Linked DNA regions of Homo sapiens: all the other regions are linked to region 1. Evidence: fine-mapped expression QTL. A gene starts in region 1. Each other region holds a variant in brackets. All regions are shown on one strand. Distances are from middle to middle.

The links. PIP is the estimated chance that this variant, and not a neighbour inherited with it, causes the effect. A credible set is the group of variants that fine-mapping cannot tell apart.
Region 2: its variant is the best candidate, but not a certain one, in a credible set for the expression of CCDC92 in lung (GTEx, PIP 0.60).
Region 3: its variant is the best candidate, but not a certain one, in a credible set for the expression of CCDC92 in monocytes after Pam3CSK4 (Quach 2016, PIP 0.73).
Region 4: its variant is the best candidate, but not a certain one, in a credible set for the expression of CCDC92 in lung (TOPMed, PIP 0.77).
Region 5: its variant is the best candidate, but not a certain one, in a credible set for the expression of CCDC92 in lung (TOPMed, PIP 0.50).

The regions. Positions count from the first base shown.
Region 1 is chr12:123,970,019-123,975,186 of GRCh38, forward strand. CCDC92 (coiled-coil domain containing 92) reads right to left here and starts at 2,813. Exons shown (of 5, transcript NM_025140.3): 1 at 2,511-2,813. It overlaps ZNF664-RFLNA (ZNF664-RFLNA readthrough), which reads left to right and starts at 3,197. Exons shown (of 5, transcript NM_001347902.2): 1 at 3,197-3,285; 2 at 3,868-4,002. ZNF664 (zinc finger protein 664) reads left to right here and starts at 3,197. Exons shown (of 5, transcript NM_152437.3): 1 at 3,197-3,334; 2 at 3,868-4,002. RefSeq lists enhancers at 1,560-2,297, 2,298-3,035 and silencers at 2,256-2,375, 2,406-3,275, 3,346-3,425, 3,536-3,765.
Region 2 is chr12:123,843,552-123,848,551 of GRCh38, forward strand. DNAH10 (dynein axonemal heavy chain 10) reads left to right here. Exons shown (of 79, transcript NM_001372106.1): 31 at 2,049-2,318; 32 at 2,420-2,603; 33 at 4,410-4,544. Among named protein-coding and RNA genes, the nearest start is that of DNAH10, 84 kb to the left of the region's middle. The variant G/A (reference allele first, on the strand shown) is at 2,342.
Region 3 is chr12:124,027,020-124,032,187 of GRCh38, forward strand. The region is part of intron 2 of ZNF664-RFLNA (ZNF664-RFLNA readthrough); the gene reads left to right. Among named protein-coding and RNA genes, the nearest start is that of ZNF664-RFLNA, 56 kb to the left of the region's middle. The variant T/A (reference allele first, on the strand shown) is at 2,787.
Region 4 is chr12:123,902,819-123,907,818 of GRCh38, forward strand. It overlaps DNAH10 (dynein axonemal heavy chain 10), which reads left to right. Exons shown (of 79, transcript NM_001372106.1): 57 at 121-295. Among named protein-coding and RNA genes, the nearest start is that of DNAH10OS, 30 kb to the right of the region's middle. The variant A/C (reference allele first, on the strand shown) is at 2,456.
Region 5 is chr12:124,013,914-124,019,081 of GRCh38, forward strand. The region is part of intron 2 of ZNF664-RFLNA (ZNF664-RFLNA readthrough); the gene reads left to right. It overlaps ZNF664 (zinc finger protein 664), which reads left to right. Exons shown (of 5, transcript NM_152437.3): 5 at 1-1,514. Among named protein-coding and RNA genes, the nearest start is that of ZNF664-RFLNA, 43 kb to the left of the region's middle. The variant GAA/G (reference allele first, on the strand shown) is at 2,262.

The DNA.
Region 1 (5,168 bases):
ATGTGCCATACAAATGCAAAGCACGACTAAGAATCATCTTCGATAGCAGGTGGGTCTTTAATCTACTAAAAAATCTTCCTAGGGTTCATGTAGGTGTCTGCGGATGTTGCTACGTCCACAACTCTAGAAGCCAGCATAAGAAAACAAAAAACAAAAGCCACAGTGCTAAAAGGGAAGTACAGAAGTCCTCGAATATAGTTGCCATCGGAATACCCAGGAGTCCCTCTCAGAAAGACCCTCCTATACCTCTGTGATACCTCCTAATAGCCATTCACGCCAAGTGGGGAACCAGCTGATCCCAAAAGCCCCTAGGGAAGGAGCAGCCCCTTCTTTCCACCGCTAGTTCTCACCATAAACAACTTTTGCCTTCATATAGAAGTGAAATCTGTTTTTCTGTACTCAATAATTACTCAAAATAAATGAAATCCCTTGCTGCATGACAGACCTTCAAATATTTGAAGACAATTAGGACACAGCCACTTCCGTGCCCAAATCCTTCTGCAGGTTGAAACATCAAAGCTGAAGATGTGGAAACTGGTGTCATTAAGTTAGCACCTACCTAGCCGGGATGAAACTTCAATCTGACTCAAACATTTACTGCAACATTGGTGTGTGAAGATACAAAGTCACCTAGTCACTGCCCTTGAAGGACATGGAATTCAGTAAATTCAGTAGATATAATTAATCTTAGTTACCAAATGTGTGCCCACTATGTATTAGAAACTATTTATGGCTGACCTTGTTCCAGATAGAAGGAAAAAAGTTCCATGACTTTTCTTGCCAGAAATACGAGAAAATGCTTTTTTAACATAAGTATTTTTTAAAAGCATCAACATTTTATTAACGTTAGTATCGTTGCAAAGGCATCCTACCAATTAGGTAATTATGTTGAGATCAATTTATCCAAAGATAATTGGATAAGTTGAGATCAATTTATCCAATTTTGCAATTTATCCAACATGGCAGATGAAAGAGTTATAAACCCAAGATGAATGATTCGTTTTTTAAAGAGTTAATAAAAATATCTAATTTCAAAAAAACCCTATTTGTTAGACCGATGTATTTAAAATGTGTCACAGTAAAAATCTCACACAAATAATTGTCCTGTACTTTAGATCTTAAATGTACCTAAACTAAATTTACTGAGTAATTATAATACGCAGAGGAGTAACAAAACTATTTTAAGATTTTTCAGTGGTGTGTATGGATATGTACGCATACCCGTATATATAATCACGAGTTTTAAAGCCTTCTTCCAAGCATATTTCACATAAGATGAACAGTTAGCCAAAAGAATTACATACATTTCAAAACATCTTTGGAGGTAAAAGCCACTTTAAACGTTAGCATCTTTTTCCTTACAATGCAATAGCGAGAAAATGCATGGGAATTCTTGATGAGCAAAAAAAAAAAAAAAGAAAAGTCGTTTTATCAATACCAATGCTCTTTAAATAAATTTCAAACGTAAAAGTTTTAAAATGGCAATCCTAGTTTTAATACTCTTACAGGTTTCTGGAACTGCGTAATATGTTAAAGTATTACAGCGTGGTAGCTTGCATTTTGTTATAAAACCGACTACTGCAACCTAAGCTACAGAGCGCGGTTATATTTTCTCTCTGGCAGCCTAATTTTCCTTAGTGGACTAGATCGTACTGCTAAATACCAAAACTTGAAATGAAACAATACAGGTCAGCATGAAAACCTAAGTTAGAGAAACTCACTCGCCGTAGCAGACGGCAGCCCAGTAGCCAAGCCTGGAGCTCTGCTGCGTTTGTGCATTCTGCTCCGTTTCACGAATCACAGGCAAATCGTTACTCAGAGTAAACTAAAGCCGCATCAAAGCTTCAGGAAGGGGCTGGCAAGGTAGTGTACTTACGGAAAGGCTACCAGGACGGGAGGCGATACAACTTGTCAGGGAGGGTCTCTAAGGTTCCCCGGGTGGTAACAAGCATTTAAAAAGGCGATGTGGATTCAGACGGCCTCCTCCCCACAGCATCCCAGACAAAGCCGGGCTAGGCCCCGGGGCGCTCCTGGTGCACCTGCAATGCGGATCCCTCGCCCTGCGATCCCACCCCGGGGCAGACAGGAGCGCCCCGGGACCGGCCTCTCCTCCCCCTTGGCACTGGGGTGGGCGCGCGCCGCGGCCGGTCCGCACCCTGGACTGGAGCCCGGGCCGGGGAGCCCCCTCCCCAGAAAGGGCCGGCAGACCCCGCGGGGGCGGGCGCGGGGGTCGCCGAGCCTCAGGGACCCTCTTTCCCCGACTCCGCCGTCTCCCGAGTTGCCTTCGCCCGGGGCCACCCCTGCCCCTGGGGGAGCTAACGTGGCTCCCAAGCCCCGGAGGTGGGGCAGGAGGACCCCGTCCCCCGTCTCCCGGCGGGGAGGGTTTTTAAAGTCTTCGCCACGAACTCCCGTCCCTGCCCGGCCCCTCCGCCCCTGCCCGGCCCCTCCGCCCCCGCCGGCGCTGCCAGGTGAGCGGGGCCGGACTCGACACACCCCGGGCCCCGCCTCACCTGCGGGCGCCGCCGTCGCGTTCCTTCAGGCGGCTGCCCTCTTAGGCTCGGTCCTCCCGGCGGGCGGCGGTGGGGGCCCGTGGCCCATGGGCTGGGCGGGGCGCGGCGGGCGGGGCTGCCTGGGCTCGGGCGCTGCCCGGGCCGGGCCGCCGAGGGAGGTCAGTGGGCACCGCCCGCCCGGCGCATCTCGCCCGCTCCCACCCCAGCGCTAGCCGCGGTGCACCCTGGGAGCGGGGCCGGCGGCGAGGCCTGGCCGCGCTGACCCGGCGGGCTAGGCGCCGGCGCGGCGGCGGGCCTGTGTCTGCCGGGCTGGGCGGGGGCGGCGGGCCGATATTCACTTGGCGAGGCGGGGCTACGCCCCCTTCCGCCCGGCTGTGGCGGGGCAGGGGCGAAGGCCGAGGGGAAGGGAGGGTCGGGCCCGCGGGACGCAGGCGCACAGCTCAGGTGCGGCCGCACTGCGGTTGCCCTGGGTAACGCGGCCCGAGGGAGGGGGGGGCGCGGGGAGGAGCGAGGGAGGCGAGCGGGAGCGCGCGCGCCGGGCGCTGGGGTGGGGGATGGCCGGGCCCGACCGGGCCGGGGCTGGGGGGCGGGGGCGGAGGCGGGCGGTGGGGGCGCGGGCCGGGTGGCCGCGCATGCGTGCGGCCCCCGCTCCCCCGGGGCTTCCCCGGCCTCGTGCGTGCGCACGCGCGCTGTCCCCCGGAGGCGTCTGGGTGTGCGGAGCGCGCGCGCGCGCGGCTCGGAGGCGCACCTGTGAGGTGTCCCTGAGGAGAGGGAGGTGGGTGCGCGGCGCCCGCGGCCTGGGGCGCTGACTCCCCTCACTTGGAGTGAGTTCTCGGCGGCCGGGCTGCAGTCTTTCTTTCTTTCCCGGAGGGAGGCGGGGGCCGGGGGCCAGGGAGCGGGCTGGGGGTGGGAAGGAGGTGGAGTGGCTTAAAGAAAAGAAAAACAACCCATCCCGGAGGATGGGCCTCGGGATGGCGGGGAAGGTCAGAGCGGCTCCGCGCAGCCTGGCGGGTCCCGGGCTGAGAAGCCGCCCCTCGGGCCTCGGGCGGTCGGCCGCGGGCCCGCAGTGCGGGGGAGCGGGGCCGGGGGGCGCAGATGGCGGCCGGTGCGAGCGAGGGCTGGGCAGCGGGCAGGGCGAGGCCGGGCGAGGCCCCTCGGGAGCCGGACTCCCGAGCCAGGCTCCATTGTTGTTGGAGCCGAGGGAAGGGGGAGCGCTGCCGCCCTCGTCGCCCGTGGAGCCGCGTCTTGGAGCCCTTCCAGGCGGGTCCCGGGAGAGGCGGTCATGGCCGCGCCAGGGGACCGGGGAGCCGGGCGGCTGCGGAGGAGCCGGCTGCATGGGGTGCTGTGTGTTTTTCAGGGCGCCCTGCGTCCGGCAGAGGAGGCGAGCATCCCGCTCAGGTGATGAGGAACCCCTCGCGCACCCAGCGCAGAAGGCTGCTGCCGCCGGACGCCTCCATTGTTTGACCACAACAAGGGCCGGATTCTCACCCAGGTAAACCGGCTGCCGGCGCTGTCCACTTCCCTCTGACTCCCGCCTCCGCAGGCGTTCTCACCCCTTCCAGGACTCGACTGCAGTTTTCTCACTGTCCCCGGCTTCTCATGAACTCCGTATACCCCCTCCCAGACATTTTCCCGTCCGGATCCATCTCTCCGCCACATCACCTCTCATTTCCCCCAGAACTCAGCTCCTTTGTGAAACCTTTCTTGCCGAACTCTAACAACTAAATCTCCCCGGGAGCCTGCTCCGAACTGAACTGTTCTGGTTGCTAGATTGCTTACGGGCTGTCTTATTGCAACAAAGGAGACCAGATACCGAAAAAAGATTTCTGAGCTATTGCCTTCTTCAAGGAACGTTTTCTGATATTTACAGTTTATTGTTTTCACAGGCTGGAACGGTTTTTAGGCATTTTGGCTTCTTATTTAGAGAGGGCTCCTATTTCCTTCATAGACGCATAGTTTTTTAGAGCAGGAAATTGACCTTGTTCAACCCGCAGGTTAATTAAAAATTTAAAAATTAATTCTAAATTAGCAGAGTAGTACATTTTCTTTGTAAAAACAGCATATCACAGAGATGGCATTTTGTCTTTGACTATCAACCTCTGTCTTCAGGGATGCCGACTATTATGTGTGTGGTGTTTATCCTTCTAGATCTTTTGGAGTACTTTTACGTGTGTGCACTTAACATCATTTTTGACTGCTTTAACAAGGACTGTTGCACCGTAACTTTCAATGTTAGCATGTAATGCTTCAAGTCATTTTTTAACAACTGCTGCACCATGTTCCATAGTTTCAGTATATCATGGTTTAGCCATTTCCCAAATTGATAGCAGTTTAAGTTTTAACTTTAAAACAGCTTTTTTGCTGGTGGTGGTTCTCTGATGAGATGAAATTTCGGTGATAGGAGCACAGATCTACGCTAATTATCGAGATTCGGCATTTATGATGAAGTTCTCTTTTGGTTAAGAAATTGATATGTGGAAGCAGCCACCCCTCCCCTATGGTAGTTCTGACTCTAGCAGTTAGAAGTTGTGTGACCTTGGGGAGGACATTGAATCACACCAAACCTCGGTTTTCTTTTCTGTAAATGGCCTGCTCTGTCTGCTCCATAGAGTTCAGTGATACAGTGCGTATGTGTTGTGGAATGTAAAGTAGTATATA
Region 2 (5,000 bases), 130 kb before region 1:
TTTTTATTGCTTTTCCTACTTATTTATTTATTTATTTATTTATTGAGACAGAGTCTCGCTCTGTCACCCAGGCTGGAGTGCAATGGCGCTATCTCGGCTTACTACAACCTCCGCCTTCCAGGTTCAAGCGATTCTCCTGCCTTAGACTTCTGAGTAGTTGGGATTACAGGTGCACATCACCACACCCGGCTAACTTTTGTATTTTTAGTAGAGACAGGGTTTCGCCATGTTGGCCAGGCTGGTCTCGAACTCCCGACCTCAGGTGATCTGCCGGCCTCGGCCTCCCAAAGCGCTGGGATTACAGGCGTGAGCCAAAGCATTCGGCCTCCTACTCTTTTAAATTTATTTTGCCATTAACTGTAGGTCATCAAGATAATGACTATAGTAATCCGCAGTCACTTTTCCAGTATTGGCATTGTATTACTGTGTTTTCACACTGCTATACAGAAATACTCAAGACTGGGTAATTTATAAAGAAAAAGGTTTAATTGACTCACAGTCACGCATGGCTGGGGAGGCCTCAGGAAACTTACAGTCATGGCGGAAGACAAAGGAAAAGCAAGTACCTTTTTCACAAGGTGGCGGGAAAGAGAGAGAGAGAAGGAGGAACTAACAACCACTTATAAAACCGTCAGATCTCATGAGAACTCACTCAGTATCACGAGAACAGCATGGGGAAACCGCCCCCATGATCCAGTCACCTCCCACCAGGTCCTTCCCTCAACACCTGGGGATTATGGGGATTACAATTTGAGACGAGACGTGGGTGGGGACACAGAGCCAAACCATATCAGGCATTTACAGCTCTGAGTCCATTATTTTTTAAGTGCAGTTTAGAAAAAAAGCTTTGTCTAAATGTGTCTCAAGGCAATCACAAGCTTTGTAAGTTAGTGCCTCTGGAGAGGACATCCAAGTGGCCAATAAACATGAAAAGAGGAGAAACCCCACGACTCAGCAGGATCTGTACATTAAGGGAGGATGAGATGTTTTGTTTCACTTTTCAGACTGGCAAAAATTCAAAAGCGTGTTACAACCTGGCCTGCAAACCTGGGCAGTGTGGTCAGAGATTATGAAATTCTTTGTTGGAATTTTAATTTTCTTTCTTGAGACAGGGTCTTGCTCTGTTGCCCTGGCCGGAGTACAGTGATGCGAGCTCGGCTCACTGAAGCCTTGAGTTCCTAGGTTCAAGCAATCCTCCCACCTCAGCCTCCTGAATAGCTGGGACCACAGGCATGTACCACCACATCTGGCTAATTTTTGTATTTTTGGTAGAGACAAGGTTTCGCTGTGTTGCCCAGGCTGGTCTCAAACTCCTGAGCTCAAGCAATCTGCCCCAGCTTGGCCTCCCATAATGCTGGGATTACAGGTGTGAGCCACCGTGCCCAGCCTGGAATATTGTTTTACTTCTTACATAAACCTCAAATACTAAGTAAGTTTGAAAACCTATAATCAAATATTTTATTTTATTTTATTTTTTAGAGACAGGGCCTTGCTCTGTCACTCAGGTTGGAGTACAGTGCACAATTGTAGTTGGCTGCGGCCTCCAACTCCTGGGCTCCAGCGCCCCTGGAGTAGCTGGGACTACAGGCATGCGTCATTATGCCTGGCTAGTTTTTAATTTATTTTTTGTAGAGATAGGGTTTTGCTATGTTGCCCAGGCTAGTCTTGAACTCCTGGCTTCAAGTGATCCTCTTCCTTGGCCTCCCAAAGTGTTGGGTTTACAGGCGTGAGCTACCACGACTGGCCCCAAACATTTAAAAAGTGATCTGGCATCTTTCTGTGCAGTCAGGTACCTGCAACATTTTTTGTGGAGAGAGGCACCCTCGGCCTGGAATTTTACTACCTAGTCGGAGATAGGTAACATCTTACTCTCACCTAAGTCTTACTCCTCTGACTTACTTAGGTAAACAAATACAGGCACTTGCTTACCTAAAACCTTTACTTTGCCCTCCCTATTCCAGATCAAAGAAATAAATTCCTGAAGGGACTGTTTTGGGTACCAGTCCCCGGATTGATCAGAGCCTCTTACAGGTGTGCGTTTTCTGCAGAGTCGACTGGATGCTCCTGTACCAGGGCATGGTGGTGCTGGCCGCTAGCCAGGTGTGGTGGACCTGGGAGGTGGAAGACGTCTTCCACAAAGCGCAAAAAGGGGAGAAGCAGGCCATGAAGAACTATGGCAGGAAAATGCACCGGCAGATCGATGAGTTGGTAACGCGCATCACCATGCCGCTAAGCAAAAACGACAGGAAAAAATACAACACTGTTCTCATCATTGATGTGCATGCCAGAGACATAGTTGATTCTTTCATAAGAGGCAGGTGAGCATTTTCCGGGGTCACTG[G/A]CATTTCAAAAGGGACCCTTTGTGGTCCGCTGATCTGTCTCAACGGTTTCCACTTCCTCCACCTTTCTTGCCGTCCAGTATCCTGGAGGCCCGAGAGTTTGACTGGGAAAGTCAGTTGCGGTTTTATTGGGACCGGGAGCCGGATGAGCTGAACATCCGCCAGTGCACGGGAACCTTTGGCTACGGCTACGAGTACATGGGCCTGAACGGCAGGCTGGTCATCACGCCCCTCACCGATCGGATTTACCTGACGCTCACCCAGGTGACTGCCAGCCTGGCACTTGTGGTTACCACTTACCTTGGGGCGGGGCATTTTCTCTAAGCTTGAGGTGTGATGACTGCAGTGATTGAAATAGCAGGGGAGATCATTGCTTTGAAATCTCGAAAAGCTTTTCCATTTGGGATGTGACCAGATTGTCACCATTTGGGATTGGCATGTAAGTGTGGCCGTGCTTAGCCACTGGTACACTGGTCCCTAGGTAATGGTGTGTCAGGGGTATTGGTAGAGGCCAATGCGAAAATGCAGGAATGTCAAAGGTGGTGACTGTTAGGGCAAGTGTGATGTGGTTTTGCACGTCTTGTGACAGCTTTTATTCCAGAATATATCCGTTCAAGTGAACGGCCTTGGATGATAGAGATAGTGTCTCCCTCCAGGACAGAGGGTAAACTTGTTTGTTGTACAGGAAATGAAGATAACACTTCCATCCAGGCAGAGCTTGGGAAGGTTTGCAAGCAACCCCCAAGACTGTTTGTCAGATGCTTGCTAGTTTTCTTTTTTTAAATTAGAGATGAGGTCTTGATATGTTGCCCAGGCTTGCCTTGAACTCCTGGCCTCAAGTGATCCTCCCACCTTGGCCTCCTGAGTAGCTAGGACTATAGCATTCACTGCTGCACCTGGCTACATTGGTGGTCTCTTAGGCTCACAGTTTCTCAGCTGTGACTCATACCCACTGTGGATGTGGCATGCACCTGGGCCCGTCTCCACATCACACCATGGGATTTGGGGGGACAAGGATAAAGGGAATGAGTGAGAACAGGAAGCCCCTGCTGCCTCCTGTGCTGTGAGTGATAAAGTCCTTTGTTTTTGAGAAAAAGAGTGTCATCTTATCTGTATTGGTTAGGGTTCCACAGAGAAATAGAACCAATAGGACATAGCTAGCTAGCTGGATGGCTGTCTGTCTGTCTGTGTATCTATCTATCTATCTAATCTATCTATCTTATCCATCCATCCGTGCATCCATCCATCTACATATCCATCCATCCATCCATCCATCCATCCATCCATCCATCCATCCATCCATGTATCTATCCATCCATCCATCCTATTATCTATCTATCTATCTATCTATCTATCTATCTATCTATCTATCTATCCATCCATCCATCCTGTCTATTTATCATCTCGATCATCTATTTTATCTATCTATCTATCTATCTATCTATCTATCTATCTATCTATCTGGATATTTAGGAGGAGATTTATTATGAGGTATTGACTCATGTGATGATAGGGTCTGATTACTCTCACAATCTGCCATCTGCAAGCTGGAGGACCAGGAAGGCCAGTAGCATTTGAAGTTCTGACAGTGAGAGAGCCAATAGTGTAGACTCGTGTCTGGGTCTGAGGGCCTGAGAACCCGAAGTGCCAAGGGTAGAAGCCCAGTGCCCTGGCTCAGTCAGTCAGGCAGCACCAGTGTAACCTCCCTCCATCCTTCTGTTCTGTTCAGTCTTCAATGGATTAGATGATCAGGCAGCACCAATGTAACCTCCCTCCATCCTTCTGTTCTGTTCAGTCTTTAATGGATTAGATGAGGCCCACCCACTTTGGGGAGGGTCATCTGCTTTTCTCAAATGCTAATCTCTTCCTGAAACACACTCATGGACACTCCCAGAAATAATGTTTAGCCAGCTACCTGGGCATCCTGTGGCCCAGTCAAGTTGACACATGAAAGCAAACACCACATTCTTTCTCTATTCTGCACCTATAGTCACAGTGATGAATTTGGAAATGACACCCACTTCCTTCTGTGCACCAGAAAACATATGTTTTGCATTTGGCTTATAACAGGCGCTGTCCATGTATCTAGGTGGGGCCCCCGCCGGCCCAGCAGGAACCGGCAAAACCGAGACCACCAAGGACCTGGCGAAAGCCTTGGGCTTGCTCTGTGTTGTCACCAACTGTGGCGAAGGCATGGATTACAGGGTAAGGCCTGGCTGTCACCTTTGGTACTGGCTCATTAGGCAGAGAGCTTAAAGCAGGACATGGCATTTCACCTCCTAGTCTTTGACATGGCGACAGTGGAAGAAGCTAGTAGAAAACCTTCCACCACCACAGCCCCAGAACCTAAGTGTGTCTGCTTAAAGACCCTGCTTTGTTAGCAGGATGTAGAGCAAGAGTCCCGGATTCACTACCCTAGTAGGGTCAGGTTGATAATGTACGTGAGTAAAGCGGCCAGCAGACAAGAGAGTGGTGGGATCTGTGGCTAACTGGAGAGCAAAAGTCCATCTAAAGAGGGTGCCCGTCCAGCTTTGGTTCATAATCACCATTTGGGAAAGTGGACCCAGCATTGCTAGATTTTCCCACATTTCAAGAGAAGAGAAGAGAAATGGAGTTTTACACAAAAATCTGGATTTGTAAAATCCCAAGTAGGAGCCAGCC
Region 3 (5,168 bases), 57 kb after region 1:
ATCTGCAGGGCAGGCTGGCAGCCGAGCCCCAGGGAAGGGTGGATGTTGCCACTCCAGCCTGAAGGCTTTCTGAAGGCAGAATCCCCTCTTCCCGGGGAACCTCAGTCTTTTTCTCCCACGGCCTTCACCTGATTAGATGAGACCCACCCATAGCCTGGCAGGTCTTTGGCTTCACTCAGGGGCTACTGACTTCAGTGTTCATCGCATCCCAAAAATACCACAGCAACATCTAGGCAGGTGTTTGACCGAATATCTGAGAACCATGCCAAGCCAAGCTGACACATAAAACTGGCTGTGACACTGCTTATCAGTCGCAGTGAATGACGCCTCCCTGCAGTGAGTGTCCAGGCCCCACACCCAGCAGCCTCCTTCATTTCCCTTTTCCTTTCACATCTGTCAGCAAGCCCTGTCAATTCTGTCCTCAGAATACACCCTGCATCTGTTCCCATCTTCTGAGCTAAAACCCTCTTCCGAGCCACCACCACCTCCTGCTTGCAGGACTGCAGCCATCGTCAGGGCCTCCCTGCTGCCCTGCGGGCCTGTGTCTGCCTCTCCATCTCTTACCTCCATCCACCTGTCTCTGTCACTCTGTTTTTGTATTGTCTCTGTTCATCTGTCTCTCTGTCTCTGCCTCTTTTTATCTCCCTCTCTCTCCCTGTCTGTCTGTGTCCCTGTCTCTTTGTCTTTCTCTGTCTTTGTGTCTGTCTCTTTCTCTCTCTCCACAAGGGCCTGGTCATGGAGGATGGCAGTGGCTGGGGTCTGAGGGAGAAGACGACAAGGACATCACATAGTCATAAGTCTTCCCCTGTCACAGATCCATTAGAGATAGAAGTGCCAAGAAGACGCGGTCCTCGGGGAGGCTGGCATTGACATGGCCAAAGTGACACTGCTCCACCAGAGGCAGCCAAGCCACACGGTGTGGGAGAGCCAGGGACTCCAGGGGAGCCGGGCAGACTTGGGGGTGGCAACTGGGAGCAGCAGCTGAGCCCGAGGGCGTGGCAGCACCCAAGGTGCTGCAGGGTTGGATGCAGAGTGTGGTGAGCCCAGACTCAAAGTCCCTCCACCACATCTAGCTGTGTGACCTTGAGCAAGTGTCTTTACCTCTCTGAGCCTCAGTTTCCTCATCTGTAAAGTATTGTACTGACGAATGACAGTATTTATCTCCGGATGGCTGCGAGGCTGAAGTGAGCTTAAGCAAGTGAAGTCCTCAGCTGGTGTCTGGCACAGAGCAAGGGCTCAGTAGATCTTAGCTGTTATTATTACTATCCCCAGGAAGTGGCAGTGGTCCCAAGTGTTGTGATCTTGCAGAAAGGCTGGCACTGCCCGTCAGAGCTGGCTGTCCCAGTGAAGGTGACAACAGCTGAGCCTGCATCTGGCAGAGGGAGCAGGGTCTGGCAGACCTGGCTGTAGCTGGAAGCGTGGTGGCAGCAGTGGGTTGGCAGCGGTGTGGTGGTCATTTGCCGGCAGGCGAAGCGCTGAGGTCCCAGAGTGCTGCCCAAGAGCCCCGTGTTTGAAGGCACTGGGAGGTGGTCCCTGGTGACTCCAGACCTGCTCAGGTAGATTTTGCAGGGAGCCAGGGCCAAGCAAAAGCAGGAGGGGGAAAAAGCATCTTTTAGTTCCCTTTCTCTGAAAGCAAACAGTCACAAGCTACAAGCCTGGGGCTTGTGAGGATCGCCAACTCTTCTGCGCACCGGTGAGTTCTTGACAATCAGATGAACAGAGGGAAAGAGGCGTGCCCTTGCTAGCCAACTTCCTGGAGCCCTCTCAGCTGGCATCTTGGTGCTTGTACACATTTGAGAGCATCAGCATTTCTTTACAAATGACCCCATCAGCTCGCCAGTCACCTTGCTTTGCTGGAAGTTTGCCTTGGGATTTGGGAGAATTTAGTTGAAACCAGTAACACCCAGCGTGGCCAAATTCCATATGCTCCTTCTGCGTCTGTGTAACAATTTCCTTTCTTTTTTTGAGATGATTCTCACTCTGTTACCCAGGCTGGAGTGCAGTAGCATGATCTCGGCTCACTGCAGCCTCTGCCTCCTCAGTTCAAGTCATTCTCCTGCCTCAGCCTCCCCCAAGCAGCTGGGACCACAGGCGTGTGCCACTACACCCAGCTAATTTTTGTATTATTAGTAGAGACAGGGTTTCACGATATTCAGGCTGGTCTCAAACCCCTGGCCTCAAGTGATCCATCTGCCTCAGCCTCCCAAAGTTCTGGGATTACATGCGTGAGCCACCACACTCAGCCTCTATGTAACAGTTTCTTTGAAATTTGTCGGAAGCAGGTTACCAGGGAGAAATAATATTTTTAATTATTCTTTCATTTATTTATTGTTTGTACATTTTCTGTGTGTGCATTCATCTGCAGGTTGTATCTTGGAATAGACCCCGCAGAGACGTGCAAGTAATGACTTCACATTAACGTGTCACTGGCCTGCCCTTGATGTGTTGGGGGGCCGGGCAAGAGTACAAATGGAGACCCACCTTTAAAAGTCATAAATCAAGGCAGGCATGGTGGCTCATGCCTGCCATCTCAGCATTTTGGGAGGCCAAGGCAGGAAGATCGCTTGAGGCCAGGAGTTGGAGACCAGACTGGGGAACATAGTGAGACCCCATCTCTACAAAATTAAAAATTAGCCGAGCATGGTGGCACACACCTGTAGTCCCAGCTACTTGGGAGGCTGAGGCAGGAGGATCTCTTGAGCCCAGGGGTTCAAGGCTGCAGTGAGCTATGATTGCGCCACCACACTCTAGCCTAGGTGACAGAGTGAGACCCTGTCTCTTTTTTT[T/A]AAAAAAAGTTATAAATCAAGTTAGCAAAGCAAATCAAGTTAACAAAGCGGTTCTGACAATGAACTCTTCAGAACCACCTGGAAGGCCAAGCTTTGGCCTTTGGGATGCGGGGACTCCTGAGCTCCCCCTGGGTTGTGGTGGGCAGTAGGGGCTGGCATGTGTCCCACCTGCCTGTGTCCCTTTTTGCTCCACATCCCTTCCTGCCCCACCCGAGTCCTCCTGGAGTCCACACGTGTGGACACCCAGCCCATGATTCGAGCTCTGGCCATCCCTCCACACCACCCCATAGCTGCCCCCTTGCAGGCCCATGGGCAGGGCCGTGGGTACCAGCAGCCTGCTCTTCGGAGGCTGCATCTGAAGAACGGGTTTGTGCAGGCTCTGAAGGAACGCCTGCGCTGTTTCAGAAGGAACCTCCAGTGCCAGGAAATTTGGAGCCTGATACAGAAGCAACATTCCGGTTTGGCACATTCCCTTGACCCTGGAGAGGCTGTGAGTGGGGCCCTCTAAAGCACGGGGCCCAGGACAGAGACCCCTCTCATCCAGGTTCAAGGGAGCGCAGACTGACCGTCCACCTCCACAGATTTAGTTAGCAAAGGTATCAAACTAGACAAGCCCCGGGGAAATTTCTGTCCCTCGTGAGTAAGTAAAAATGATATGTATCAAACAGTAATTTTGAGGAAAGGAAAAAAAAGACAGCAAAACTCATACGATCTCATCTCAGGTTACAGAATCTTAGGCGTTAACTAGCTGATCTCATGTCACAAAAAGTCCGGGTAGGAGAGTCAGCATTTTGGGGTCTTCATCCAATTCCCCAGTGCCCTGGCTTCACACTGGCCAGCTCATTTGACCTCCCCGAGGCAGAGCGACAGGAAAGCACGTGACTCATCTCCTTCTAGCGTGTGTCTGTCCCAACAAAGTCCTAATCAAGATCCCCGAGAGATCCTCGGGCTGCAAGATGCCTGGGAAATATCAATTGTTGTCAGCCTCACAGGCTCCATGCAGGGAATTCCTGCAGGCTCAGAGGCCTTTGTCATCAGGGAGCTTGCAGTCAAACGACTTGTGGTTTTCTTCAGCACTTCGGTATCGGCCAGGATCTCTTTTCTTTTTCTGACACTCTCAGACAAAATGCACAGAACAGTTTACAAGCCCCTCCAAGTTCTCTAGTCCCTCTTGATAATTGCCTCTGAATATTGACACAGTTTTAATATACAAATTTAATACGCAGAGGGATGGTAGATGCGATGACTTGGATAATCCCCATGAGCAGGGAATAATAAAATAGACACGTGGCTTTGGAATTAATTATACTTTATTTGGCTTCATGATTTAGTTTTGAATTATATAATTGACTTTATATTAAGTAAATTTAAGTTACATAGGTGGTTGAGAAAGAACCAATAATCAAATGGAAAAAAGCCAACCTGGGGTTCATTTTTGTTTTCCTTCGTGCGGAATAGAAGTTGCTGATTCACTCGTGGGTGGTTGAGTGTTATTCATATACTCAAGAGCTTATGTTCTTTGTATCATTTGTTTGGGGTATTTTTTTTAAGTTCCGGGGTACATGTGCAGGATGTGCAGGTTTGTTACATAGGTAAATGTGTGCCATGGTGATTAGCCACACCTATCAACCTGTCTCCTAGGTATTAAGCACAGCATGCATTAGCTATTCTTCCTGATGCTCTCCCTGCCCTGTCCCCACCAATAGGCCCCAGTGTGTGTTGTTCCCCTCCCTGTGTCCGTATGTTCTCATTGCTCAGCTCCCACTTATAAGTGAGAAGGTGCAGTGTTTGGTTTTCTGTTCCTGTGTTAGTTTGCTGAGGACAATGGTTTCTAGCTCCATCCATGTCCCTGCAAAGGACATGAACTTGTTCCATTTTATGGCTGCATAGTATTCCATGGTGTATATATGTACCACGTTTTCTTTATCCAGTCTATCTTTGAGGGACCTTTGGGTAGATTCCATGTCTTTGCTATTGTGGTTTTTTTTTTTTTTTTTGAGACGGAGTCTCACTCTGTTGCCCAGGCTGGAGTGCAGTGGCGCGATCTCGGCTCACTGCAAGCTCCGCCTCCCGGGTTCAAGCAGTTCTGCCTCAGCCTCCCGAGTAGCTGGGACTACAGGCACCCGCCACCATGCCTGGCTAATTTTTTGTATTTTTAATAGAGACAGGGTTTCACCGTGTTAGCCAGGATTGCCTCGATCTCCTGACCTCGTGATCCGCCGCCTCGTCCTCCCAAAGTGCTGGGATTACAGGCGTGAGCCACTGCACCCGGCCTATTGTGGGTATTTTTAAAGAACACAACATAGTGAAAGGTGTTTGTTTTTCTTTTACAAAACAAAACAAGTCTAAGATTGAAGGATTTGCTCTGTTGTTCCCATGTTC
Region 4 (5,000 bases), 67 kb before region 1:
CCCTTAGATCCCCGCTAGGGCTCAAGCCAACCTTTGAGGACTGCACTCTGCTCAGAGCCGGGGCCGCGAGTGCATCTCCTCTGAGCCCAAGCTTTACTCACCCCCTGTCCTACCCTGCAGCCGAGGAGAAGAAGAAACTGGCAGAGGAAAAGGCCATGGAGATAGAGGAGCAGAACAAAGTCATTGCCATGGAGAAGGCCGAGGCCGAGACGACCCTGGCAGAGGTCATGCCCATCCTGGAGGCCGCCAAGCTGGAACTGCAGAAGCTGGACAAGTCGGACGTGACTGAGATTAGGTAATGCACCTGAGCCACCATTCTGGGCTTCCATTCCACCTCTGCAAGCCAGTAGTCTCCATGATCGTGGCAACCAGGAGCTTACAAAGGAGCCGATGCCACATGCTGCCACTGTGCCTGGCTCTCTCCATGGTGGAGACTGTTGTTGCCCTCATTTTCGGATGGGGAAAATGAGGCCCAGGGAGATGAGGTGGGCGCCCCAGGCATCCAGATCCCCCAGCTAGTAGGAAGCAGGGCCTGCTGACCTTGAACCCAGGCCAAGGGAAGGATGGAGTGGGGTAAAACAGTGCTCTTCACGGAACATGCGGGGGCAAGTGTCCGCCCTAAGCAGGGGCAGGATGCTCACCATGGGGCTGAGCCCTGCTGAAAACAGCTCTGCAGAGATGTGTGCACACCACGGCCGGACTGGCGATGCCTGAATCCATTTCCAGCCAAGGAAGCTTTCAAGGAGGGTGAGAGTAGGTCACTATTGAGGCCCCCATACATCTTGCAAATCAATCTGTAAGATGACCCTGTCCCCCACACCAGAGGGCTCATCTGCTGTCAGCGAGGGTAACGTGGTGTGGCGTGGGCTAACAAGCTTTCTCCTCGCATGGCTTGGCCTCCCCAGGGCACTGTTCCTGGGCTCTGATGGTCAGTTGAGTCTTGTGAGTAAAGCCCTGGGAGGGAACACTGTCCTGGTGCCAGCCTCCGCCCACTGCCTCTGCCCCTGTGCTGCCTGGCCCCGCACAGACCCCTCGGCGTGGGAGCCTCAGCTCTCTCCTTCCCCACTCTTCATCCAGAAGGAGATCAGTCTTCCTGGCCCCACACACGGGTCTCGCAGCCGAGAGGCTCCGTTCCTGGGTCAGTAATGGGCTTCCATTCTGGGCTCCCGCTGGAGCGGTGCATGTTCCCTGTGCTTCCTATTTCTCTGCCTCTGTGCTGCCTGTGAAGGCTGAGCAGCGCTCCTTGTCCAAGTCCGTGCCCTTGTTTTCTTATTGGTGAAACATTTGTGAATTTGAGCATGGAATTCAGCTCACTCCAGGACAGAATGACCTCCCGGTTCATTCTTGGGAGGTCACTTGGAGGTGCTGCTGTGGTCAGCAAGAAGTCATTAGTTCAGTGTTGAGGATGGTGTCAAGGAGGGTATAAGGATCGATGTATTAAAACTTCAGCACTAGGCGTTGGAAGTTTAGGCTGAGGTACCAGGACACAGTGGAAGTGCACACCCAGCGGAGGGGTAGGAGACACGGTCAGCACACACATCCTCCAGGGAAATTTCTAGCTACCGGTGATAGGATTTGGGCCACTGCTCCCAGGTCAGCAGCATAAAAACATCGTGAAAGCAGAGACTAGGAAGGATTTTTGAAGGGGATTTATTTGAAGAGAAGGAACGGTGAGTCCCTTCCATCAATCCAAGGTGGAGGAGTGGGGGGGAGCTTCCATGGGGCCAAATAGAGGGCGTGGCATGTGTCCCCTGCAGTGAGACAGGCATTGCAGACAGGTGCCCCGCTCACCCCTGAGAAAGCCTAAGTACAAAAGGAATAATTTTTACACATTCATACATGGCTCTGCCTCTTTGCTGTGTGACGTTTAGCAAGTCATCTAACCTCTCTTTGCTCCAGTTTCTTCATTTGTAAAATGTGGATAAGAATTGTCTCGGCTGCATCAGGGTCTTCATGAGGATCATATGAGCCTATATGTGAAGAACTGGGCTGGGCACATGGTCAGAGCCATGTAAGCATTAGCTGTGATTATGGCTCCAGCATCCAAAAGGTATGCTGGGAAAAGCCCACGGCCACTGTGTCCTCTATCAGCTGTGGTCACCTTCCCACACTGCAACAGGTAGTATGGGTATATCATTTCTCATATACACTTCCTGAGGATTTTCATGCATGACCAAGGCAACCAGGTACACAAGGGTCTCTTCTCTTCCTGACTTCAGGTTCTGAGGGTTTGGAGAGCAGGGGATGCCTGCAAATCCTTTTTTCCTTCTTTTATATACAAATTATAACACCCTATGCATATCTTTCTGCATCTTTTCTGCTTAGCAGTATATTTTGGAGAGCTTTTGCATGTTGATGTATGATGAACTTCCCCGATATTTTAGAACATTCCTTCACATTCCATTGTGTGGCTGTGCCGTAATTTATTTAACAAGGCCTTACTGATGAGTTTGTT[A/C]AATAAATTGATTGTGTCTCCAGTCTTTTGCCTTTACAAACAGCGTGGCAAAGAATAAATCTGACCATAGTTCATTGTGCACGTGGGCGAGTCCACCTGCAGGATACATTTCTGGAAGTGGAATTGCTGGGTCCCAGGGTGTAGGCATTTATAGTGTTCATAGCTGTTGCCTAATCCCCGCCGTGGGGATGGAACCTATTTATCCTCACCAACAATCCAAACGAGTAGTACCTGCTTTTTCCTAGACTTACCAACAGGGGGCGCGATCACATGTTGGGATTTTTGCATATTTTGTAGATGAGTGGTACTTGTGTAGTTTTAATTTGCATTTCTCTTAGTGTGAGTGAAGCTGGCCTTTTTTTTTTTTCCTATGAGAAAAGTGTGTCTAAGAGTTATGTGTATTTCCTTTTCTGTGAACTTGGTTTGCGTATCTATTGGGTCGTGGTTATTGTTGCTTTTTATTTCAAAACCATTTCCAGGGGCTTTTTATATAATGGGGAGCTCAGCTTTTTATCCATAAGGTGAGTTGCAAATCTTTTCCTGGTTTGTCATGGGCTATTTGACTTTGTTTATGAGGTTTATGTGTGTGTTTGTTTTTGCCATCTATGTTTATTTTTATGTGGCAGGTTTTAGCAATATTTTATTTTGTGGCTTTTTTTTTTGAGACAGAGTCTTGCTCAGTCACCCAGGCTGGAGTGCAGTGGCACGATCTCGGCTCACTGCAACCTCCGCCTCCCGGGTTCACGCCATTCTCCTGCCTCAGCCTCCTGAGTAGCTCCAGCCTCCTGAGTACCTCCAGACGCCCGCCACGACGCCTGGCTAATTTTTTTTTGTATTTTTAGTGGAGATGGGGTTTCACCATGTTAGCCAGGATGGTCTCGATCTCCTGACCTTGTGATCCACCCGCCTCGGCCTCCCAAAGTGCTGGGATTACAGGAGTGAGCCACTGCGCCCGGCCTTTGTGGCTTTTTTTAAATTTATTTTTTGAGACAGAGTCTCATTCTGTCACCTAGGCTGGAGTGCAGTGGCGCGATCTCGGCTCACTGCAACCCCTGCCTTCCAGGTTCAAACGATTCTCCTGCCTCAGCCTCACAAGTAGCTGGGGTTATAGACACCCACCACCATGCCCGGCTAATGTTTGTATTTTTAGTAGAGATGGGCTTTCACCATGTTGGCCAAGCTGGTCTCAAACTCCTGACCTCAGGTGATCCACCCACCTCAGCCTCCCAAAGTGTTGGGATTACAGGCATGAGCCACCGCACCCGACCTATTTTGTGGCTTTTGGATATTGTGTCCTAGTTAAAAGGCCTGATCACACTGCAAGATTGTAAAATAATTTCCCCATGATTTCTTTTGGTACTCTTATGTTTTAATTTTTTATATTTAAATCTTTTATCTATTGAGGATTTTTTTCCTGGGGTTCTGTGTGAGTTTGGATCCAATTTGAGTTTTTCCAGATGAGTAAAATCTGGCTTTTCTCAGGTCATTTGGATGTTAAGCGCAATGAGCCGGCACTTACATCTTGACAATTTTATAATCTTTTAAGTCCTTAAAAAGCGCTTCCTTCTTATCATACTCAATCCTCTTTGTAGAAATCATTAAATGTTAAGGCAGGAAGATGAAGAGTCATGAAGATTAGAAGTAGATGTTTCTCTAACTATAAAACTATAAAAGCCTCCCTTTGTTGCTGGCTCTTGAGTTTCACTTTTCTTCCTTTCATTCATTCAGTAGTCAGTGGGTGTCTGTCCCCCACCCCACCCCTGCCCTGAGCAGGCACTGGGGCCCATCAGCAGTGAGGCAGGCAGGGTCTTCACTGCGTGGCGCTGACACTCTGTTTTCCTATAGGAATCCCATGTGCATGGGGAAATTATGTAGGATTAGGTTAGGAAGGAAAGGTCCTTGCTGCTCTGACAGTGGATGTTGGGACCTGACCTAGTCATGGTCATGGAGGGCGGAGGGGGCACCTTCTCTGAGATTGCAAGGAGCTCGGCTGGAGAAAAAGCAGAGACAGCTGGTGTGTCAGGGGTAGAGTACTGGGAGGTGGGGAGTGGGGTTTATAAGGATTATTTTCCTCTAGGGAGGGTAGCATATCATTCTCCCTTTCTCATTCCTGAGTTTGTTTTGTGATAGAAGAAAGGAATCAAATTAAACAGACATCTCCCTTTCTCTTGACTTGCACCCTCCACATTTCACACACCTTGGTCATCCGGCATTGTGGAAAGTGGTATGTTCTGGATAAGTGAGATCCCAGAGCGTGGCCTGCAACCCAACAGCAGAAAACGTCACTTTGGTAGACTCAGAGGATTTGGGAACTGGAAGGTTCCAGTTCTGCGTCTCTACTTCACAGATGGGGAAACTGACGCCCTGGCTGGTTCCTAACTTGCCCAAGGGCTCAGGACCCCGCCGCAGGCCTGGGCTCCTTCTGTCTTGAATCTGAAAACATCTGCCCCATTCTTTCCCCACCTGCTTGTTCACAGAGCGGTGGCCGGGGCCTGGTTTCCATCCACCCTGAAGGGACCTTTTAAAGACACTTGACAGCCCCGCC
Region 5 (5,168 bases), 44 kb after region 1:
TCAGTTCTTTGTTAGGCATGAACGTCTTTATTAATCCATCATTCTTTTCTTCATTCAACAAATATGTATTGAACACCTCCTATATGCCAGGCACTGTGCTAGGTGCTGGGAATACCACTGATGAGACAGACAAGGTCCCTACTCTTGTGGAGTTTACTTCTGGTGGAGGAGACAGATGATAAGTAAACAAATAAATAATGTAGTTTGAGATAGTGATTAAGTGCTATGAAGAAAATAAACTAGGGTGATGATTTTAGTGGTGGGGTGGGGTGGGGGTGGGGTGACATTAGCTAGTGGTCAGGGAGGCCTTTCCGCGGTGGGATGTTGAGCTGAGGCCGGAGGAGAAGTAGCAGTCGCTGGCAGAGCACACAGGCTGCTCTGGGGGATGAGCTGGTGCGTTTAAGGAACAGGCCAGCACTGGCATTCGCAAGCAGTGGGGAAGGGGAGAGATGCCGAGGTGGTCAGTATCCTGACTTTCAGAGGCCTTTTTTTGTTTGTTTTAATTTTTGCTAGATTGATATTAAAAACTCATGTGGAGGAACTCAAGGAATGTTTAGAAGACCAAAAGTCCCCAATGACAGGAACAAAAGCAACCAATTTTTAACTTTCTCTTCTCATTCCTGTTTTCATTGATTTCCCACATGTAGTCCTTTTGCTCAGGAAGTCTTTGGGGAAATTAAGGATCTTTGAAGCTCTGAAATAGGTGATCAGGTTAGTGGTGTCTGTCAGCTGTCTAAGAGGTTGGAAAATGAACTACTCAAGATAGTCACGAAAATACTGAAAGTTTGATTTTTCTTTCCATATTTGAATTAATTTTTTCTGTTTGACTGGAAGGGGTTTTTGTATAACTAAAACCTCAGCGCATAAAGGAGATTTAAAAGGAGCACATGATTTAGTGGGTGGGCCATGAAACTAGAGATGGGATTTGGGGGTGAATTTGTCAATATCTGGATTTTAATCCAGACATCTCTGCTAACAAGCCTTTGGTAAGTCACTTCAGATACTTTTCCTCCTTTTTACAAAGAGAGGGCTGGCTTAGTTATTTGCCAAAGCCCCTTCCAGGCCTGAATTCCACAAGTACGATTTACTGTAGTGTCTTATCACTCTTTCATGTCACAATAGCGTGGAGCATTAGAGAAAAGCCTAGACTTTTAGTTGATAGCCAGTTGAAATATCATTGATAGAATTTTAGTTTTAGGAAAAATTGGTTTGATTTCTAGCTTTATTACTATTAGGTATGTGAGCTTGGGCAAATCGCTTAATCTTTGAGTCTAGTTTTCTCTCAAAATGAGAACATTAGGCTAAATGATTTCCGAGTTTCCAGCTAGTCCTAGAGTTCTATATTTCTACATAGTTGAATTATTTTATCATGCTGTTGCTGGGGAATATGACTAACCCTTTTGAAGCTACTAATTTTATGTCGAGCTTTAAAGTCCATAATTGTTATCTTCAGAAAATATTATTTGACCTACAGTATGTCCAAATCAATTTAATAAAATCGCTTTATAACAGGGTTCTGTGCTTGACATGTAGTTGTGTGAATTCAGTGGTCGTGTGTGGGAGTATGGGTATGGGTGTGTGGTGGAGAATTGGCTTGCACATTAAGCCCAGGGTGACCATGTAATTTATTGTCCAAACTGAGCACTTGAGAGTGAAGGGAGGGGGTGCTGTTGATACTCACATCTGGACAACAAGCCTCGAATGGGCCTTTCTCGGGCACACTAAGGTGTGAGGACACCTTGGTCTGAGGTCACAGCCACACAGGTAATAAATGACTCAAGTCAGGAATAATCCATCTGGAGAGAGCACAGTCCACTGAGAGGACTGCCTCAGCTCGGCTGTGGCTCTGTGTTCACGGCGAATACAGGCCCACAGCTCTTCTAAGAAAACACCAACCTCGATTTTCACACACAGTTTAATCTTAAAATGTTGGCAGCTAATTCCTTTTCCTTGGGTGATCCATTTTGGTGCTTTCTGTGATCTTCCTGGTGCCCCTTGGCAGTTCCTCCAAGCCCTGCCCTGGCCCCTGCTGACTGCAGCCCATGCCTGGGAAGGCGTGAAGTGCTGTCAGCTGAAGCAGAGGGGGCCCACGTTCTGTGCCGCAGTCAACAGTCTGACTGGCTGTGGCGTCTACCAGCTTTGAGAGACAAGTCTGCATTGCAATTCCACCATTGGGATGGGAGCAACCCAAACTAGCCCTTCTGATGGGGGTGGGGGGTGGGGGCAAGGGTAGGTCATCTGTGATGGGATTCACTCTTGGT[GAA/G]TCTGCTAGGATTTAGAGTGTGAGCCAAGATAAGTCCAGAATGACTGCATGGTTTCTAACTTGGAAGCATGAATAAACGGCAGATTGCCTCTTGCAGATAGGAAGAACTCTTTGCATCAGAGTCCAACATTGAGATAGTCTACTGCGTGAGAATGTGGGCACAGCTCGTCAGGCCATCTCAGAAATTGAAGAGGGATTACTTTGTGTTGTGTGAGCATGGACATGATTCCTTCCAAGGGACCTTCTAGCTCTTGGCTCTGTTCTTAAAATTTTTGAATTATTTCTCAGTCTTTGTAATGTACTGATATTCTCAGAAATTTGAAAAACTAGGTGAATGGAAAGCAAATATCAGAAGCAGATGGAAAATATACTCAGTGGTAAAATCTAGGAAAAGATGAGAAAGGTTGATACTACTACAGGGCAAGAGCCATATATAAATAGCAAAGCTGAGTTAAGATCTATGGATTAGAGAGGAAGAGAGGAAAAATGAAGATGATAGAGCACTTCCTCTAACCATATTCATTTTCTTAATTTTTCTAAACCTCAAGTTTCTCATCTTTAAAATGGTTTTGAAAATATCTAATTCATGGAAATGTTGGGAGAAGTAAATAAACGTAAAGTGCCTAGCATTTAGTGCTATAACGAATTCCTATTCCCAGTTGCCTATTAAGGAAGAAAGGTCATGTTATTTGGATTCCTTTTTGTTTTGCTGAGCTCTGTGGTGGGTTTGGACATCTAAAATTGGGGTAGGACCTGGAGAGGGCTGAATTGCTCCACATGGTAAGAGAGAGAACTTGAATCTCCTGGGGTAGTTGGAGGTAAGAAAACAAAGGGTAGACTTGGAGTGGGAGAGAGGACCAGGGAACCAGTGGAGTAGGATGGTCTGAAGTTCTGAGCTCTTGTGTAGGAAAACTTCGTGACCACAAAGTCTTTCCCTAAAGTTAGGGGTGTTTGGCATGGTGGATTTCTTATGGAAACTGGTGGAAGGGCTGAGTGCTGTATCCAGGGTGAAATGGGGCAACACGTAAGTACCACACATAAATATAGGAGCCAGAAGAGGGTGCCCCTGAGAACAAGCTCCAAGGAATATGCAGAATATGCAGAAATCTTCAGGGTAGCTAAAAGCTGCTACAGGCCATGGAATTAATGGAGTTTTGAGTCAAGTTTACCCAAACCCCTAAGGGGCAGGGAGGCCTGGGATATCTTTATTTCCACTCTCAATGTACATGAAGTAGAATAACTTTATAATCATAAGTAAGTTGAAACTTAAGAATTTTTTTTATCATTCTCATTTTAACATATTACAAAACACATGAACAAATCCAGAGATCCCAAGGCTGTGTGTGTGTTTATGCCAGTAAGAACTTGTCATAAATATCGGTGGAAAATGACACTTTATACCAAAGCAATTTTATTGCTCAGATTTAGGCATATGTAAATAAACTGCATTTCTAGAGTAAAGTAGCACATACAGATTTTGTGTATTTTTAGGCGGATGTATGCATTTTATAGACTCTGTACCTTCCTAAATACTGTGTCTAAATATGGCTTCGCTGAGAGACCGACTTTCCCTCCCCCTCTTAATTCTTTGCTGGCCCTGATCCAGGTCTTCTCTGCATCATGAATTATGGTGGGGGTGTTGTATTTACAGAATTTTAAAACCTAAGACCTGCAGACGGCTTTTGGGGAGGTCTAGAACCTTTTTAAGTTATGTGCAGAATTTTGTGTACCTGTAGGTCTATGCATTTTTCTAGGAAAGGGGGCTTTCCTTATGTTTGTGACTCTAAGAGATAAAGAACACTGGCTGGCATATGGTTACTCGTTGTTTGGGGATCTTGGGAGGCAAAAGGGGTGCCTAAGAGTTCCAGTTAGTGGAATGGATAGGAAATGATGGGTATAATAAACGGAGGAAAAAACACAACGCTGTGTTGTGAGGAAAGAGGGAAAAGGACGTTGGCATAAAATGGAAGGATACATGTGCATGTGTTGTTATGCTGGGCCCAGGAGGTAGGCTGTGTGGCAGTTTCGATGTCATACGCTTAAGACAACAGTTCTGCGAACAGTGTATTAAAAGAATATAGGTGAGGACAATTGAGTATTCAGAGGGGACTGGCTGGACGTGGACGGAATTGGCTACCTGAATGGAAAACACTAGATCTCAACTGAATCTGTCTTGGTTACAGAGGAGGCAGTTCTTGCTGTAAAATGGGTGAGGGCCCCAGTACTGGTGTGGGTTGTATTTAGGTTCTCAAATAGACCTATTCATATTGCTCAATGCCATGTTCTCTCATGTCTAATTTTTATGTCCTACCTCACTTGCCTGGGATCTCTGACTGTTTAAGTCAGTCCTCTTTAGTCTTCATCCTGTCTGTCCCCAAAATGTCTTTTTTTTTTTTTTTTTTTTTTACCCCTGATACTCTTCCATCCTTGTGTGCCCCCCGCTCCCCTTTCTGAGATAAGGTCAAGACCCACAGGGACTTAGTCTCAAGGGTAAGTCCTGTTTCTACAGTCTGTGGAGGATGACGGGAGAGTCTGGTAGAGCAGCAAGCCCTACTTCCTGGAGCTGTTGTTGCCACATTGTTATAGTTGAAACAGGCAGTGTCTGGAAAGAACTGAATCCTCTGTGTTTTGCTTGCCTCACTTGATCCAGTAAACATTAGGAGAAGAAATTAAAAAAACAGGAAAGGATAAGATGGCAGGAGTAAGTTGAAGCATATTGTTAATCATAGTAAATGTGAACTGGTTAAATTCAGCTACTTAGGGACATTTTCAAGTTGATTTGTAAATGACGTCACAAACGTGTATATGATGGTTATGGGAGACCACCTAAAATAAAGGGGTGACCCAAAAGGCTGACAGTGAAGGGGTTGAAAAAGATCAGGAAATGCTAAAAGAAAGCAACTGG